Linked DNA regions of Homo sapiens. The protein of the gene in region 2 interacts with the protein of the main gene of each other region in a pairwise test. Each region holds a gene or a part of one and is shown on either strand. Other genes may lie near its edges.

The links. Proteins that work in one complex are often made in the same cells at the same time.
Region 1: the proteins of SEC23A (region 2) and SLC7A1 interact in binary tests that used the Homo sapiens proteins (3 or more experiments, as listed by UniProt).
Region 3: the proteins of SEC23A (region 2) and CLEC17A interact in binary tests that used the Homo sapiens proteins (3 or more experiments, as listed by UniProt).

What each region holds. Positions count from the first base shown.
Region 1 is NC_000013.11:29,529,670-29,536,700, forward strand, and holds part of SLC7A1 (high affinity cationic amino acid transporter 1), read right to left. Parts: intron 6,534-7,031; 5' UTR 6,520-6,533; coding exon 6,150-6,519; intron 3,314-6,149; coding exon 3,155-3,313; intron 1,044-3,154; coding exon 869-1,043; intron 1-868. UniProt on the Homo sapiens protein: High-affinity, low capacity permease involved in the transport of the cationic amino acids (arginine, lysine and ornithine) in non-hepatic tissues.
Region 2 is NC_000014.9:39,031,400-39,037,247, forward strand, and holds the end of SEC23A (protein transport protein Sec23A), read right to left. Parts: intron 1,930-5,848; coding exon 1,840-1,929; 3' UTR 520-1,839; downstream 1-519.
Region 3 is NC_000019.10:14,586,072-14,593,102, reverse strand, and holds part of CLEC17A (C-type lectin domain family 17, member A), read right to left. Parts: intron 5,490-7,031; coding exon 5,412-5,489; intron 3,365-5,411; exon of another isoform or gene 3,010-3,364; intron 823-3,009; coding exon 745-822; intron 1-744. UniProt on the Homo sapiens protein: Cell surface receptor which may be involved in carbohydrate-mediated communication between cells in the germinal center. Binds glycans with terminal alpha-linked mannose or fucose residues.

The sequences.
Region 1 (7,031 bases), on a different chromosome or scaffold from region 2:
GACTGGAAACATCTCTTCTTTAAAGCCACACTCCATTGTGGCAGTTGGAGGGGGTCTCTTTATCATAGCAGTTTCAACCTTCAGTCTTAATGAAGAATCACACACAAAATCCAAGTCCCCATTGTCCATCCTGAGACCTAAAGAATTACATGGAGATCTGACAACAAAGATAAAAAAGATATGACTGTTTGGCTTTTTTTTCCTAGGTTATCTGAGCTTTCAATGAGGGCTGGGCGAGAGACCTGAGATGGCACAGGGTGGAGCTGTCACCTCCAGTTCCGGATGTCTGTGTCAGAGACATGAGGGTGATGGGGCCACTGTCGCCAGGGCTTGAGCAGCACAAGTCAAATGTCGGCGAAAGACTATTGTGCTCACATTCTGACACTTCAGTCATTCTGAAAACCTTCAAAAATAGTTTCACCTATTTCTCTTCCCTCTACATTATTAATCTAATAGGAAGGTATTTAAAGGTGAAGTGAGGTCACCACGGCACTGCAGAGAAAAATCTTTTCTGAACACAAAATTCCAAAGTTGGCCATCAAACAGAATCTGGGGAAAGAGGGATCATTTAATGAGTCTGACAAGAATCCTGAATGATACACAATTTGGAATTAGGGTGATGATTTTCTTTTCCTCAGTCTTTCTTGTCATACAATAGTCTTTCCATTTCAGGGGAATAAACCTTCACACAAACTTGATACATACAAAATACCCTCAGCTACTTCACTGCAAAAACACAAAACAATTAACAAAATATCCTCAAATAATGTTTTCTTAAAAGCACATGCCATCCTAGCCAGTTATATCCCCCATACAATCTATGTCATTAAATGTCAACTAAGAAAAATGGTCAGAAGCAGCAACTCACTTGTTCAAACAGAGACGGCCTGATGTGTTCCCAAAATCCTCCTCCGTGAGCTGCCAGTTTTTAACCGATCCTTTCACAAATCCTGACACCATTATGAAGCCCAGGACCAGGACGTTAATACAAGTGAATATTTTGTTGACCATGGCCGACTCTTTCACACCAAGAGTTAAAAGTCCTGAAAAAGTGCATAGACACAAAACTTTGTCTGAGTGTTAACCACAAACTGGGAAGGTCCTTCCTGGATGGGGATAAGAAGGCGACTGAAAAAGAATCCAAGTGCATCGAGCCTCTGCAGACCTCTGTGAGCCTCTGGGAATGGGGTGGATTAATTATCTTTCTGGGGGCGGGGATCAGGGGTTTAAATCACCAAGGTTGTGGGTGCTTCCCAGGCCCTCCTAGGTGACCTCCAGATACCCTTGGGAACTGAGAAGCCCACCCAAGGGGCACCCGAGAACTGCAGAGATCTGGAGCATGAGCCCCTCTCATAGGGAGGGGAAAGCCTGGACCCGCACACCAAGCCGCTCCCTCTCACTAAAAGGATGCGTTGCTGGGAAACAACCTCTAGGAACAATTCCAGGAAGAAAGACTTTGCATAGTTTCCTGGGAGAATGGACATTTTTCAGAAGAGGAAATTATTCTGGTTGACTTTGGGATGTTAGTGATATTAACAATAACAACTAGCTATGGTTCTGGAACCACTAACACACATGGTTCTTCGTTGGACTCAGTGCATATAAAATAACATCTGAGCTAGGCTAGCTCTAGCTTGCAAACTCACGTTTTTTTTTTAAAGAAAACTATAAGTAATAAAGATGCCCAGGAACCTCTGACAGCACTGCCTTTGAGGCACATGCCCCAGCACCACCTTAGGGTGAAGAGGTCATTCGGGTACTTCCATAGCTGAACTCTCTGCTGGGCAAGAAAAGTGGCACAGAAGGGGTTGGTACCACTCGAACACAGCCAGGATTTGAGACCACTGCTCTGCCATGGACGCCTCTCATCGTTTTAAAATAAAAATTGGCTAGGTGCGGTCGCTCACGCCTGTAATCCCAATACTTTGGGAAGCAGGCAGATCTTTTGAGGTCAGGAGTTCCAGACCAGCCTGGCCAATATGGCAAAACCTTACCTCTACTAAAAATATAAAAGATTAACTGGGTGTGGTGGTGCGTGTCTGTAATCGCAGCTACTGGGGAGGCTGAGGTGTGAGAATCGCTTGAACCCAGGAGGCAGAGGTTGCAGTGAGCCAAGATCGCGCAACTGCACTCCAGCCTGGGTGACAGAACAAGACTCTGTCTCAAATATAAAATAAAATAAAATAAAATAAAAACTGCTGTACTTTTGAGATTGAATTATAAAGTACAGATGTTAGAAGAGAATTGTGTAATTAATCACAGGGAGAACACCTCAACAAACAACAATATATTGTTTCTTTAGTGTCCCTCCCTCTCAGGTTTATTAAAATGAAATCTCACTAGTGCAGACTTACTTTCTGATGCATGTTTCTGCCAGCTGGACCAGAAATACTGCTGAGACCAGCCTGAGTGAAGTTATTTCAATTATGTGGTGTGTAAAATAAGGCATGTCATTTTTAAAACTCATCCAAGATTTTCTAACCCCAAATGAGAATTTATCTGCATTTCAGCTTCATGTTTATGGAGCCCCACAGAGCAAAACTCGCGCTGCACTGGCCAAGACACGCACAAATGTCACTAGCAAGAAGTTGCCATCAGCTGTGTTCAGGCAGTCTCTGGGATTTTTCAAATTCTGTAACCACAACTCTGTCATGAAACTTATTTACTGAAAGGGTGTTTTGATGGTTGTTAGGTGTAAAAACCATCCAAGTCATCTTCAGACGCCCCAGGCACACATTAGTGTTCCAGACGGAGCTCATTCCTCCACATTTTCCTGGCTGATGAATGACAGTTTTGCTTTCCAAATGGTCATCCACTGAGTCAAAAGAACTTTTATTCCCAGGACACTCACACAAAAAGCCTGCAGTGCAGACAAAATCTTATTCCACAAACAGCTAGGCTAAACACCTAAGATTCTCTTTTAATGAAATGGCACACAATTCAACAGCTATGAAGCAGGCCGGCCCTATCTGAATCTATAAGAAGCAATGAAGACAGGAACAAATAAAGATGCCTGCATGCAGTACAAAAACAAAACAAAAAGAAATGGGGGTTATGGTTAAAGAGATAAGTAAAGAAAGGAACTTAACAGGAGCCTCTCACCAAACCTTTGCCCATCACTCTGACCCGATCTCTTTTTAAGTGTGGGCTTTACCTGTCAAGATGAGAATTATGATCACTGCGAATATGTCGGGGTTTTCAGCCAGCACGCCGGGGGCGTTCAGAGTCATGTGTGTCCGTGAGAACTCCCCGATGGGTCTGCCTATCAGCTCGTCGAAGGTGGCGCTCCAGGCCCTCGCTACGCTTGAAGTACCTGCCACAAAGCACACACAACAGAGGAGATGTGAGGACAACTGTTAGCCAGGTATTTGTAGTGGAGCTCCATGTTGATAACATCATTGCAGGAGTCACCGACGGTGCACTGGAATCTGGCAGCAGCAGCCAGACCACAGTGTATGCTGAGCCAGAAGTGACGGTCGACTAGTGCTAAGTGCGAGAAGGCTTCTAGGGCCTACAGAGGAATGCACTTCACATCCTACCCAATATACACAGGTGTATTCTATCAAATATATATATCCGAATAAAAAGTTCGCAAAACGAGTGTTACCCTTACCACCTGAGAGGCACTCTGATAATATTTAATGCTACCTACTTTGTTTCATTAAAAAAAGTAAACATTGATGACAACTCATGAAAAATTGATTTCATAATGCACTCCTGGGGTGCAGCTGGCAGTCTGGAGGAATGCTGCTTAGGAAGCCTCTTTTCTAGGAACCCCTTGGCTGCAGAGATGATGGTGCCTGCACCATAATTCTTCTCTCAGCAAGAAGAGGGGCCCTAGGAAGTCCTTGAAGGGGCTGAACTCCATCTCAGGGACAAAGCCACTTGCTCATCTCAGTGTTGGCATCAGCCACCTCTGCCACTTTTTGCCTGAACCTGATTCGGAGGCCACAGCATCCCCAGAGTGCAGGACAGCAGACAGACCCCAGCCCTCCTCGTTCTCCCCTCAGCCTGCACCCTCCGGTGCCGAAGAACACCAACAGGGCAGCACTCAAAATGCCAACAATAGTTGGCTGCTGTCTTTCACTCTCATTCTCTCCTCTCACATAATTCTAAAGGGTGTCAGAATGTGTTTCCATTGGTGTTTCTCAGGAAATGTCACTAAAATTCCAGCATTTTCATAGAGCGTTTTCCTTTATTTTCAAAGCGGGCCTTGTCGGTGACCATGGTCCTAATTATCCACAGCATATTGCCACAGTGATCTGCAGAGATTCAATTTCACTATTTGGTCTTATGATAAGTAAGTATCTTTCCAACAACTCAGAAGTTTAACCACATTTCTTCCTCCTAAGCAGCCAATCTATTATGAATTCTGTAAAAATGGTCTCACCATCTCCCTGTCACCCCCAAAGCAGCTGGCTTATGGCAAACGTGGCTCCCAAACCCTGTCCTGCTCAGTGACAGGGGCTACCCCAGCCTTTCTTCCCAGCCTATCCACTCCCAATTTCTGAATTATGCCTTTTAAAAAAATGTTTGCTGGAAAAACTGCCCTTCCCAGCAGCTAAGGCTGAGAACACATTTTTATAATGCATGCAAATGGTTTCACACAAGCAAACGGCACTCTCGCAGAGCCTTACATTTGTTGGTCTAGAAGCTGCAAGCATTTCATGCTCAATGTATATTTTATGCTCAGGTAAATCCTCTGGAAACATAACGGTCCATTTACAATAGCTACATTCCCAGTGAGAGACTTCAGCTTGTGAGAACCATGTGTGGTTGTTAAGTTTTGATGTGGCATTGAAAGAAAACATTGTGAATTTTATTTTAGAACCCAGAAGACTAAGCTATGTTGGCTCTCAGCAGATACTGCAGCTGCTGGAAAGAAAGAGAAGGTGCTGCTCGGAGAATGTGAGTGTGTGCCCTCCCCCAGCTGTCCTGGTGAAGGGGGAGTGATGCCCCCCATGCAGAGATAGGGCTGTGGGGAGCCCAGGGCTGCGAGGATCCCAGCAGGCAGCATGTGTGGCCAGGGAGGGTGTGGTGGGGTCCAGTGGGAGCTGACACAGAAGCAAGGCGGAACCCACATGGCTCAACTTAACAGGTCTTACTGTTTTTTCGCTATTACCAAAAAGTTTGAGAAAAAAAAAAATAAATGGCATGTTGAGTGGCCGTTTGTACCCTTTGCTTCTGAGACTTAGGTTTTTGTTTCTTTTAAGTTGATGTGTTCAACTTCAGTTGTAATCAAAATACAAAAAAGCATAAAGAGAAGCAAAGCGTGTTTACCTGGCAAACCGGAAAGATTTTCTACATTTGCTTCCTTATTTGCTGGGTGGATGTGTTACAGGCCGATGCCCAGTGCCCACACTGCAGGGAAAGGGGCCCCTGGCTACGTGGAGGATCACAGTCAACAAAGGCCTTAAAAACACGCAGACCCACTGACAGCCATTCTGCTCCTTAGACAGTTTTAAGGAAAAGAATCATGGCTAAGCCCAAAGACATAAAGTAATTAACTGTTAATAACAACAGCAACAACATAATGGAAACAATCTGAACATCCCATAAAGACACCAATACATTACGCTGTGTATATAAATCTATACAATGGTAGGCAAGCATTAGAAATGTTACTGTGGAAAAATAGCTAATGATATGAGAAATGTTTACTATATATTGTTTTATAAAGAGATACACTGTAGAAAAATACACATTTAAATTCACAAAAATGTTAACCATAGTTGTATCTGTAGACAGTAAACTTCTGAACACAGAGTGTCTTATGCCTTCATGGGATCCCTAGTATCTAGCACAATGCCCAGCCCAGAGCAGGTACTCAATGAACATTTATTAAAAGAATGAATGAATGAATGAGAGAATTAGTTTCTCCATGTTGTCAGGCAGGGTATTTCTACTTTCTTCTTCATGCTTTTCTTTATTTTCCCAATTTTTCTCTATCAGTGATGCATTTACTCTAGTAATTTAAAAACCTACTAAAAGAAACTAAATACCTCTAAATGAATCAGAAACATCCTATTAATTCTGTGCCTCTCGTGTTAACAAGAATGACCTCCCTGTGGGGCATCCACCCACACTTTGGAGGTGGGAACAAACAGAAAAGTGGTAGAGGGCACGAGCTCCGGACCCCTGGGACCTACCGATGATGTAGGAGAGGATTAAGTTCCAGCCGGTGATGAAGGCCCAGAGCTCTCCAACGGTGACATAGCTGTAGAGGTAAGCTGAGCCCGTCTTGGGGACCCGAGCACCAAACTCGCCATAGCACAGGCCAGCCAGCACTGAGGCCAGCGCAGCGATCAGGAAGGAGATGACAATGGCAGGGCCTGCATTCTCACGGGCCACAGCTCCAGCCAGGACGTAGACACCAGCACCCAGTGTGCTGCCCACCCCGAGGGCCACCAGATCAAAAGTGTTCAGGCAGCGAGACAGCCGCGTCTCCTCCCGGCTACAGTCCACCACCTTCCGCCGCAGCATCTGCTGCCCAATGTTGAGCAGGACTTTGCACCCCATGTTGCTGTTCAGAGCTGTTGAAAAAGAACAAAGATGTTTCCTGATTGCTCCTCATTTCACCCATTACTCTAATCTTATCACATTATGGAAACACAGACAGTGATCAGGTCCTTCATAATCATTTCCTGCTAAAACGCTTTAATTCGTAGAATTCCACCATCAATTGTCAGAAGCACGCAGACTTCTCCAGTTTCACCAGCACATACAGAATTAACCCAGCAGGCCAACAGATACAGATGACTTCATTTCGAGGTCTCTGAGCTTCCACATTTGTAGCAGGTCCTCTTAATGGAGACTCTTCCATGGGTGGAAATTATGCAGTAGAGGAAACACACATTAATGACATTGTTCCTACACTCAGTCATCAGATAATACACCAGGAAAAACAAGGTGTTAGTTCAAGTATGCTGTAATAGAAAGCAAACCAAACCATATCTTAATTTCATTACTAAATTAAATTATTAAATTATTAAAACTCAGAGGCCCTGAATGGCAATAACAATGTTTTTCTA
Region 2 (5,848 bases):
AGCCTGGCCAATACGGTGAAACCCTATCTCTACTAAAAATACAAAACTTAGCCAGGTGTGGTGGCAGGCGCCTATAATCCCAGCTACTTGGGAGGCTGAGGTAGGAGAATCGCTTGAACCCAGAAGGTGGAGGTTGCAGTGAGCTGAGACTGTGCCACTGCACTCCAGCCTGGGCAACAGAACAAGACTCTGTCTCAAACAACAACAACAACAAAAAACTACATGAACTTCTATCTCCCTTTTTAAAAACACACTAGCCTTACAACAAAAATGAGTAACTATTGGGAGTGATAAAAAATACTCTAAAATTGATTGTGGTGATGTGGTTACATACATAACTTCACGAAAATACTCAAAACTATTAAATTGTGCACTTTAAGTGGGTGAAGTGTATGATGTGTGAATTATATCTTAAAGTTGTTATTTTTTAAATGAGTAGCTTTTAAATCTAATGATTTTAAATACTCTAATTTTACATTAGGCTTCTCAGGTTTTACTAGATTTCAAAATAGCCAGAAAAACAGTGAAAAGTATATTTTATTGGCATTTAGGCCTAGCGTAGTTCAATTCAAATAAAATATAACAAAGCAACTTATTTAAGCTAATTGAATATAACACATAAACAATTTTTTCTTAAGTTTCTGCTTTACCATCATATGATTGTGTTCATGCAAGTACAATCATTAAAACTGTCCTCCTAAGCATATATCATAGCACCACCTTTTATTTGCAGTACTTGATATGTAAATTTCATTGTCAAAACATATCTGGCTTTATCAATGTAAACATATTTGCTACAAGTAAACTTTAAAGGTAAAAGTGAATACTAATGAATAAATCAAAATAGAACTGAGCATCACATGATATAATTAAGCAAACATTATATAATACTGTTTCAATAAGAACCACAACTTAATACATTTCACAAAAAGGAAGGAAAAACAAAAAGTAATGTGTAAACTGCCAAAATAGTGTTAAAATACTGAAGGATATAATGCAAAATTTACCTCTGAAAAACAAGGGGAAAACAACAAAACCATGCTGTGAAAACTAAATTTGGTTTAGTAGTTACAACCGTCATTTTACTGCAAAGGCTTACTAAAATGCACTCCAACAAAACCATTTATTTTCTATCTCCCCTTTTAAAAAAACTACTGCGTTTAGTCACATAAGTTGGATATTTTGTGGAAATTTCACATTTTTTGTCAGCTGCGGGATTGTTACCCAAAAAAACCTTTCATCTCTAAACTATCTTTCCAAATAACCAAAAACATTATCATCATGAAAATTACCATTATAAAATCAAATAATTCCTAAACAAATCATAAAAATAAATCTGCCTTAACCTAGTAAGTACAGAAAAAGTGTATACATAAGTGCTGAAAATTACAGAAAAATATTCAATGAATAAGCAAAAATGTTCACATTTATCATTACTATTGTTTTTTTGCTTTCTGGCTAAAATTAAGGAACAAGTTTTTAAAAGGTGAGCAAGAAAATTCAGTGCCACTTTGGGTCTGTCTGCAATATACAAATGAGTTACATCTGTAGTACGAGGCAGACTCTATTTTTTATTAAACATAATTAAGTTATAAAGACTTCAAATTTCTAGAACCAGCTATAACACTGTGGTAAGCAAAATAAATTTGTTCTTATTGCTCTCATTATAATTCCAGCTTAATCTACAAATGTGAACATTTTCCATATGTTGTCTCAAACCATACTAATACAAAAAATATAGAGCAATATCTGTTGGTTTCCACAGATAAATGGAAAAAGGAAAAAATGAAATTTGAATATTATTTCATCTTCTTAAGTGTCTTTAACATTATTAGCACTTCAAGCAGCACTGGACACAGCAAGTTTCTTCAAGTGATCCATAAACACTTGTAAACTAACATCATCTGTAAGAATAGGTGCTCCAGACTCCTAGAGGAAAAAAGATATTTGTTATGATTAAAGCATAGGGTGATATCATGGAATTTATACACAAATGTTTAAAATAGACAAGGAAATCATTTGAAATGCCTATGGTCCTATTAAATAAAAAGAATCTAACTGGCCTCCGTCCCTGGTTGCTGGGAGGGAGACTCTACATCCTTAGAATTCCCTGATAATAGGAGTGTCTTTATTCATAGGCTGATGGGATCACATAGGAGTTTATGCTATGAGATGAGATGAATCAGGATGGCGGCTAGTCACCACGAAGACTAACAATGGAATTAGAGGCTTGGTGCTTTTAAAAGAAAGCCTGACCTCCAGACCCTTTCTCCCTGGCATTTTAAGAGAAATCCCAGCTGGAAGGAAGCAAACTCATAATATCATTTTTTAAATAAACTATGCTTCTCAAGTTTTCAGGTCGTTTTAATTGATTTCTGTAGGTTCCAAGTAATTAACAAGAGTTAGGGAAAATTCCTATTATCCATTTTAATAAAAACTGTATTGACAGAATGATCTTGGTAACCCAATCCATTAACAATGAAATTTTACTTCAGCAAGAGAAGGTATTTCTAGAAGATTTTTAATCTGAATTTTACATTTTTCTTCTTATACTCAAGTTCTTATTAATTATAAATATTCAAAGTCTAAAACAGGGAAATTAAGTAATTTCAGCAAATTATTGGCAAATGTGAGATGAGAACTTATAGCTCCTGTGATTCTAGTCTGGCATAGCCACAAACATGCCATAACCTCTCCTGAATAAAGGGAAATCAATTTTATCATATGTTTATTCAAAAGAACTTGAAAGATTTGATAATGAAGGGAGGCAATCCCTTACTGGGATTAAGGGCATAGAGTCTGGATCCAGAATGCCTAGGCTCAAATTCTGGCTCTGCCACTTCCTACCCATATGACTGAATAAGTTATTTAAACTATGTCTTAGTTTCCCCATGTGTAAAACAAGGATAATAACAGGACCTATCTTACACAAGTTGTTGTAATGATTAAATGAGTTAAATTCTATAAAGCAAACAGAACAGTACCTAGTACACACAGTAGACATACATGTTTTAGCTATTTCTATTGTTCCTCCTGTTCAAAAATCTATAACAATGAAATACTTTTCTTTATTCTATATGCATAGCTAACACAGAAAAGCACAAGTCTCAAAACTGTAACCTAAACCAGTAACAACCTCATGGCTCTTACTTTTTTCTTCCTGTAACTATGCCTGATTTTATTTTCATTTTACAATGTTTTCCATCTCAAGTCACCCAATCTCAGAGCCATTTCTCCTAGTCAAGACAAAATATAAGGATTTCCTAATTTATATACCACAGAGCTCCTGCTTGAAATGATAAATACCAATGCTCATTCGATTTTATAAAAAATTAGCAGTTAGCTGATCTCAACTTTTCAAATGGACCCTTTTTCTATTTAAAATATATCCAGGATTAGGCAGAAAGGTACAAGCTTTACATTATTTAGTATATGAGGCACTACAGCAACAGAGGCCTCCAGCACTGTCACAGAAGTGTTGCAGTGGTGCCCTCTTACGGCCGTTCATGGATAATACTTATCATAGGGTCCTTGATTTCTGACCCCCAAAAAATCCTGTAAGCTATTAGAGTCCATTAATTTTTAGTAAAATTCTTGGTTACTGTTATTTCCTTTAAATGCAATCATCAAATTAACTTGATTAAAAATTCAGAGTCTGGAGTTAGACCTTGGTTAAAATCTAGACCCTGCCACAGTTTAGCTACATGATCTTGCATAAAATACTTAATCTATATGAGCCTCAATTTCCTCTCATGAAATATAGGATTACTAGTATCCACCTTATAAAAGTTAATTAAATGAGAGTACACTAAAAGCATAGTGACTAAAACAGTAGATTCAGTGTATTAGATATTATGATTATTAAAATATTGACATCATTACTCATAAAAATCTTAAGAAAGACCTGAGCACTCTTATTTATGCCTGTAATGCCCCTACTTCCAGGCAGTAACAATTACACTTCAGAGTTTAAAATAGGTTTCCTTTCCCATGTTAAATATAAGAAGTGACTTTTTTTTCCATTGATAATAGTGAAAACTAATAGCTAACATTTACTGAGTATTACTGTCCATTTCAAGCATGTTTTATTAAACTCTATAGACAAGGAAGTGAAAACAAAGAGAAGTCAAGTAACTTGCAGAGTCTGCATTTTCCATTACCAGCCTTCCACCCTTCCAAGATTACTTTTTATAACCTCCCCAACTTTTAGAACTTTTGGACCTGGGATTCAATTTATTTACCTATATTACAAAAACTCTTAACTCCTAGCCACCTCCACAGATTTCCAATATTCTAATCTCTGCTCTCTCCTGTCCAGATCTATTGTATTCAATATATGCTATGTTTAAGGTCCTATGGAAAATCAAAAATGAAAATGACAGTTATTGCCTCAAGTAATTAATAATCTAACAGGAGCAATGCCATAAAAAATGGAGGCGGGAAAAGGGATGACAGGACAGGGATATTACACAAATTCAATCATGCAATTGTAGGACGGTGCTATGGTTTGAATATCTGTCCCTTCCAAAACTCATTTTGAAAATCCCCAATGTGGCAGTATAAAGGTGGGGCCTTTAAGAGGTGACTGGGTCATAAGGGTTCCGCCCTCATGAAACAATTAAAATCTATTCATGGATACTCCCAGGCACAGTGGCTCACACCTGTAATCCCAGCACTTTGGGAGGCAGAGGTGGGCAGATCACGAGATCAGAAGATCGAGACCATCCTGGCCAACATGGTGAAACTCCATCTCTACTAAAAATACCAAAAAAATTAGCTGAGTATGGTGGTGTGTGCCTGTAGTCCCAGCTACTCAGGAGGCTGAGGCAGGAGAATCGCTTGAACCCAGGAGGCAGAGGTTGCAGCGAGTCGAGATCGCGTCACTACACTCCAGCCTGGCAACAGAGCAAGACTCCGTCTCAAAAAAAAAAAAAAAAAAAAAAAAAGAACATTATGGAAGCATGCTCTAGATATTTTTAGTAAATAAAATAGGCCCTCACCACTGCTGCAAAAGCGTTTTATTAATCTTCAGTTGATTTTTGTATTCTTTAGAACTGTTTTTAATCTTTTCTAGTTTTTTTGGCCCCTAACTCCAGCCTTTTTCACTCCTAAATAATCTCATATTATTGAAAAGAAACAGGCAATTATCCAATGTGAGTTTTCACTCCACCTAAAAACCTTTCTGTCTTCACCCTTCTTACCTTTTGCTTTTGCAGAAATAAGTGCCCTGCCTCCTTACCAATGCTTAACGTCCATATACTGCTTATGATCATATTGTCTCCTGAGGATCTTAAATATCTGTTCTTTTGTGTCTTTCCTATGCTTGGTCTCCAAATAAGTTCTGTGCCCTTACCGTAATAACAATCATCTGCCTATCCTACTGCTTATCCTCAGGTTAAATTTGCAAAAGAATCATTTATACTTTCGACCTCCGCTTCTTTCTCACCCACTAATTCCTTATAAATTTATCTTCTTACTCAACCACCATACTAAAGCCGCTTACACAATGCCACGAATAACCTCCTAGCCATCAAATCCAAGCACCTTTTCTCACTCTGTATCCCTCTTCAACTGTCTGCGGCATGTCAGTTTGTTACCTCCTTCTTCTTCCTTCTATAAAGTCACCTTTTATGACATACTATTCTTTTCATTCTGCCTCTCTGATAATTCACTAAACACTCCTACCACTTGTACTCCCCTGAAGTTTTTGTCTCATCTCTCCTTTACCTCTTTACTCTCTCTTCAGACAAGCATTTACTGTGATGACTTTATCACCTTTCTCATTCTTGCCCTGACCATCAAACCCAAATTGCCAACAGCCCACTCAACATGGCCATAATCAATATGG
Region 3 (7,031 bases), on a different chromosome or scaffold from region 2:
GGGCTTTGAGTGGTAATGAGAGGAGATTGAGGAGCCCACAGGCCACTCCCAGTTTCTCAAGCACCAGCTTTTATGACTCGGGGACTTTGCAGCCAACAATTCTCTCCTGTGCTTCTCTACTTAAGAAATGTCTGCTCGGCCAGGCGTGGTGGCTCACACCTGTAATCCCAGCACTTTGGGATGCCAAGGCAGGCGGATCACTTGAGGCCAGGAGTTTGAGACCATCCTGGCCAATATGGTGAAACCCTGGTCTCTACTAAAAATACAAAAGTTAACCAGGCATGGTAGCAGGCGCCTGCAATCCCAGCTAATCGGGAGGCTGAGGCAAAAGAATTGCTTGAACCCAGGAGGCGAGGTTGCAGTGAGCGGAGATTGTGCCACTGAACTCCAGCCTGGGTGACAGAGTGAAATTCCATCTCAAAAAAAAAGAAAAAAAGAAAGAAATGTCTACTCATCCCTCAAGTCCCACTCCAAAGTCCCTTCCTCTAATTGAGCTCTCAGTCCCCCAAGGATTTTGCCAATCTCCTGACCCTTCCTCTCTCAACCCTGCTCACCAAGGCTGTGTCCAAACCCGCCTCTGCCATCAGACTGACAGGTCCTCCTGGGCAGGGTGTGTGTTGCACAGTGCCTGGCATGGGCTGGATACAGAGGAGACTGACTGTGTGTCTACAATGCCCAGCCAATGCCTCCTGGAAACCCTGTTCCCTGTATTCCCCCAGGTCACACTCCAAAAAGTCCTCTTACCTGGCTTGGGAGGAAGGTCCTTGTAGGGAGGTGTTGAGTTCTCATAGTCATCATCCTCCTCCTCCTCCTCCATGGTCCCTTCCAGGGGAAAGGCAAGTCAGAGCCCAGCCATTCCCTCCTCCCTCCATCCCTCAAGCCCTGGTCTCTGCCTCAGCTGCCCCATGATGGGGATTCTGTACCCTGGATCTTGACCACACCTGGGCCCCAGCCCCAGCCTGGCCAGGGCCTTACCTGGTGGGTCTGGACACCCAGCGATAGTATACATGTTGTGCATGGCTACAGCTAACACCAGGAACATGACAAGTGGTAGCCAGGTCTTGTCCCTCCTACTCAGATGTCTAAGGCATCTGTCTGTTTCCCTTTCCTTTCAAAGTCAAGTACAGGCAAATCCATCTTGGGGGGAAGCCCCTGGACCTCACACAAACACACACACACACACACACACACACACACACACACATTTTTCTCCGGAGTTTGGATTCACACACGGAAGAAACAATGGGCCGGGAGTGGTGGCTCACATCTGTAATCCCAGCACTTTGGGAGGCTGAGGCTGGCAGGTTGCCTGAGTTTGGGAGTTCGAGATCAGCCTGGGCAACCAACATGGCGAAACCCCGTCTCTAACAAAAATACAAAAACTAGCCAGGCATGATGGTGCAAGCCTGTAATCCCAGCTACTTGTGAGGCTGAGGCAGGTGAATCACTTGAACTCAGGAGGTGGAGGTTGCAGTGAGCTGAGATCGCACCACTGCACTCCAACCTGAGTGACAGAGTGAGATTCTGTCTCAAAAAAAAAAAAAAAGAGGAAGGAGAAACAATGACAATAGCCCCCATTGCAGTGAGCCGAGATAGCGCCACTGCACTCCAGCCTGGGCAACACAGTGAGATTCTGTCTCAAAAAAAAGGGCCAGGCGCGGTGGCTCACGCCTGTAATCCCAGCACTTTGGGAGACTGAGGCAGTCAGATCACAAGGTCAGGAGATCGAGACTATCCTGGCTAACATGGTGAAACCCTGTCTCTACTAAAAATACAAAAAATTAGCCAGGCGTGGTGGCGGGCGCCTGTGGTCCCAGCTACTCAGGAGGCTGAGGCAGGAGAATGGCGTGAACCTGGGAGGCGGAGCTTGCAGTGAGCCGAGATCGCGCCACTGCACTCCAGCCTGGGCGACAGAGCAAAACTCTGTCTCAAAAAAAAAAAAAGAAGAAAAGGAAAAAGAAGAAACTATGACAACAGCCACACCCCTCCCCTCTCCCAGTTGAGCTCCCCTACAGAGCACCAAGTCCTGGGTGGAAGAGATGGATAAACTTCTTCCTGCAATCTAGACCAGAGAGACAATAAACCAGTAAAGAGACGCAGAAATAGGCTGGGCGCAGTGGCTCATGCCTATAATCCCAGCACTTTGGGAGGCCAAGGCAGGAGGATCGCTTGAGGCCAGGAGTTCAAGACCAGCCTGGGCAACATAGCAAGACCCTATCTCTGTAAAAAAAAAAAAAAAATTAGAAAAAACCATCCAGGCATGGTGGTGCACACCTGTAGTCCCAGCTATCGGGAGACTGAGGTGGGAGGATTGCTTGAGCTCAGGAGGTTGACACAGCAGTGAGCCATGATTGCACTACCACACTCCAGCCTGGGCAACAGAAGGAGACCCCACTCTTAAAGAAAAAAGAAAAGAGGCTGGGCATGGTGGCTCACGCCTGTAATCTCAGCACTTTGGGAGGCTGAGGCAGGCAGATCACCTGAGGTCGGGAGTTCGAGACCAGCCTGAGCAACATGGAGGAACCCCATCTTTTCTAAAAATACAAAATTAGCCGGGCACGGTGGCACATGCCTGTAATCCCGCTGCCAGGGAGACTGAGTCAGGAGAATCACTTGAACCCGGGAGGCAGAGGTTGCTGTCAGCCAAGATTGCACCATTGCACTCCGGCCTGGGCAGCAAGAGTGAAACTCCGTCTCAAGAAAAAAAAAAAAAAAAGTAAAGAAATTAAGAAACATTAAAATATGTTTTTATATAGACTAAGTATTACTGCTCTAAACCTAATAAAACAGAGCAATAGGGATAGGATAAAAGCTAATGTAGCGAGGTCATCAGGAAGTGCCTCCTGGAAGTGGTAACATTTGTAACAAGATGTTAAGGGGATAGGTGTTAAGTATTCCCCCACATTCCATGGTGAAGTACCAGGGCACTGGGTCAGTTATCTATGGCTGCACAACCAATTACCCCAAAACGCAGTGACTTAAAACAACCATAAGCATTTATTATCTCACAGTTTCTGTGGTTCAGGAATCTGAGAGCAGCTTAGCTGGGTAGTTCTAGCTTGAGATCTCTTGCGTGATTGTAGTCAAGATGTTGCCTGGGACTGCAAGTCATCTGCAGGCTTGACTGGGGCTAGAGGATCTGCTTCCAAGATGATGCACTCACATGGCTGTTGGTGGGAGGCCTCAGTTCCTTGCCATGTGAGCCTCTCCAAAGGGATGACTGGGCATCTTCACAACATGGCAGAGGCAAAGATAGAAGCCACCATGCTCCTATGATCTAGCCTCACAAGTCACAAAGGATGGTCTCCACTATACAGTATTCTATTTATCACATGGACCAGCTCTGAGTCGTTGTGGGAAGAGACTACACAAGGGCACGAATATGAGAACGTAAAGGTCACAGGGAACCCATCTTGAAGGCTGACTACCACAGTCATCTCTGCAGAACTTACAGGCCCTGAGAGTCATATGAGTCATATATGTAGACCCTGAGCTTCACATGTGAGGCTTTACAGACAGTGACTCATGCCTGTAACCCCAGCTACTCGGGAGGGTGTAGTAGGAGGATTGCTTGGACCCAAGAGCTCAAGGCTGCAGTGAGCTATGATTGCACCACTTCAGGGCAGCCTGGGTGACAAGCAAGACCCTGTCTCAAAAATATTTTTTTTAAATTCTCTGGTTTCCTCTCATAAAAACTAATGAGCAGACAATTCACAGTTCTCTTCTCTGTGTGTCTCTTTGAGGGTTTGATTGAAAGGGGAAGGGATGGAAGGGGATGGAGGGGATTTTAAAAAACAAAAACAGTTGCGTTTCAGGATGGGGATGAAGATGAGGTGAGGTTTGGATTAGAATTGGTGTTGGGATGGGGTGGGATGGGATGGAAAATGGGTTGGGGACAGGGATGGATGTGGGTAAGGTCATGATGTGGTTAGGATGAAGAACAGAGTCCTTGCCAGGTTTGGGAAGGGGGAAGGAGTCGAGGCTGGGCTATAGTAGAGAGGGTGATGAAGTTGGATTGGAGAGTGGATGCTGGGCTGCATGTGGATGTGGGGACAGGACTGTGCTTTTGGAGCAGACGTGGCCCTGAAGAAGGGAATGGGATTGGTTGGTCATATATGTAGACCCAGGGCTTGAGGGTCACATTAGGACCATAAATTGGAAATGGGGCAGTGAAACAACACAGCACAGGTCACCTCCTACCTCAGGCAAGTCCCACCATATTTCTGGACCTCCCAGGTGGCCCCACTCTGGACTCAGAGATGGGGGATATACAGCCTCAGCCCTCATAGAATGGCCCCTGTCTAAGGTCACCAGGACCAGGCCATCAGCATATCTCAGGGATTTTCTGTTTTGGGCCCCCAGGATCTCTCATGGCCTCAGGGTCCCTGGTGGCAGTAAACTCAGGAATACCTCAAAAACCTCCGGTTTCATTTTCTCTATTTTTTTAGAAGTGGGGTCGCGCTATGCTGCCCAAGCTGGAGTGCAGCGGCTACTCACAGGAGCAGTCGCACTACTGATCAGCTCGGGGGTGTCGAGTGGCTCTGTTTCCAACCTGGAAACCCCTCCTCAGACACCTTAGGCAACCTGGTGGTCCCTGCTCCCAAAACATCACCATATTGATGCCAAACTTAGTGCAGATGCCCAATCACATACTTCACAATAGCCCAGAACTCCTGGGCTCAAGCGATCCTCCTGACTCAGCCTCCCAAGTAGCTGGGACTACAGACATGTGCCACCACAAACGGTCCAAACCTCTACTTGTTTTTTTTTTTTTTTTGGCAGAGATGGGGTCTTGCTATGTTGCCCCGGCTGGTCTCAAACTCCTGTCCTCAAGCGATCCTCCCACCTCGGCCTCCCAAAGTATCAAGACTACAGATGCACACCACTGCAGCTGGCCCAAACCTCCACTTTAACAACCACTTATCAGTCTCCTGTTGGACCCTGTACCATGCCTTGGGTTTGTGATCCAAGTCTAAATAAAACCTGGGCTTTGGGTAGAAAGGTGAGGAGATTGGGAGCCCACAGTCCACTCCCAGTTTCTCAAGCACCAGCTTTTGTAACTCAGGGACTTTGCACCTAACAGTTCTCTCCTGGACTTCTCTTCTTAAGAAATGTCTACTCATCCCTCAAGTCTCACCCCAAAGTCCCTTCCTCTATTTGAGCCCTCAGTCCCCCAAGGATTTTGCCAATCTCCTGACCCCTCCTCTCTCACCCTGCTCACCAAGACTGTGCCCAATCCTGCCTCTGCCATCAGACTGACAGGTCCTCCTGGGCAGGGTGTGGGTTCCACAGTGCCCGGCATGGGCTGTGTAGAGAGGAGACTGACTGTGTGTCTACAATGCCCAACCAATGCCCACTGGAGACCCCGTTCCCTGTATTCCCCCAGGTCACACTCCAAAAAGTCCTCTTACCTGGCTTGGGAGGAAGGTCCTTGTAGGGAGGTGTTGAGTTCTCATAGTCATCATCCTCCTCCTCCTCCTCCATGGTCCCTTCCAGGGGAAAGGCAAGTCAGAGCCCAGCCATTCCCTCCTCCCTCCATCCCTCAAGCCCTGGTCTCTGCCTCAGCTGCCCCATGATGGGGATTCTGTACCCTGGATCTTGACCACACCTGGGCCCCAGCCCCAGCCTGGCCAGGGCCTTACCTGGTGGGTCTGGACACCCAGAGATAGAATACAGGTTGTGCATGGCTACCGCTAACACCAGGAACATGACAAGGGGTAGCCAGGTCTTGTCTCTCCTACTCAGATGTCTAAGGCATCTGTCTGTTTCCCTTTCCTTTCAAAGTCAAGTACAGGCAAATCCATCTTGGGGGGAAGCCCCCAGACCTCACACAAACACAAACACACACACACACACACACACACACACATCTTTCTCTGGAGTTTGGACTCACACATAGAAGAAACAATGGGCCGGGGGTGGTGGCTCACGTCTGTAATCCCAGCACTTTGGGAGGCTGAGGCTGGCAGGTCGCCTGAGTTTGGGAGTTCGAGATCAGCCTGGGCAACCAACGTGGTGAAACCCCGTCTCTACCAAAAATACAAAAACTAGCCGGGCGTGGTGGTGCCTGCCTGTAATCCCAGCTACTTGTGAGGCTGAGGCAGGTGAATCACTTGAACTCAGGAGGTGGAGGTTGCAGTGAGCTGAGATCATGCCACTGCACTCCAGCCTGAGTGACAGAGTGAGATTCTGTCTCAAAAAAAAAAAAAAAGAAAGAAAGAAAGAAAAAGAAGAAACAATGACAACAGCCACCCACCTCCCCGCTCCCAGTTGAGCTCCCCTACAGAGCACCAAGTTCTGGGTGGAAGAGATGGATAAACTTCTTCCTTCAATCTAGACCAGAGACACAATAAACCAGTAAAGAGACATAGAAATAGGCTGGGCGCAATGGCTCATGCCTATAATCCCAGCACTTTGGGAGGCCAAGGCAGGAGGATCGCTTGAGGCCAGGAGTTCAAGACCAGCCTGGGCAACATAGCAAGACCCTATCTCTGTAAAAAAAATTTAGAAAAAACCATCCAGGCATGGTGGTGCACACCAGTAGTCCCAGCTATCAGGAGGCTGAGGTGGGAGGATTGCTTGAGCTCAGGAGGTTGACACAGCAGTGAGCCATGATTGCACTACTACACTCCAGCCTGGGCAACAGAGGGAGACCCCACTCTTAAAAAAGTAGAAAAGAGGCTGGGCGTGGTGGCTCGTGCCTGTAATCTCAGCACTTTGGGAGGCCAAGGCAGGCAGATCACCTGAGGTCGGGAGTTCGAGACCAGCCTGACCAACATGGAGAAACCCCATCTTTTCTAAAAATACAAAATTAGCCGGGCACAGTGGCACATGCCTGTAATCCCGCTGCCAGGGAGGCTGAGTCAGGAGAATCACTTGAACCCGGGAGGCAGAGGTTGCTGTCAGCCAAGATTGCACCATTGCACTCCGGCCTGGGCAGCAAGAGTGAAACTCCGTCTCAAGAAAAAAAAAAAAAAAAAGTAAAGAAATTAAGAAACATTAAAATATGTTTTTATATAGACTAAGTATTA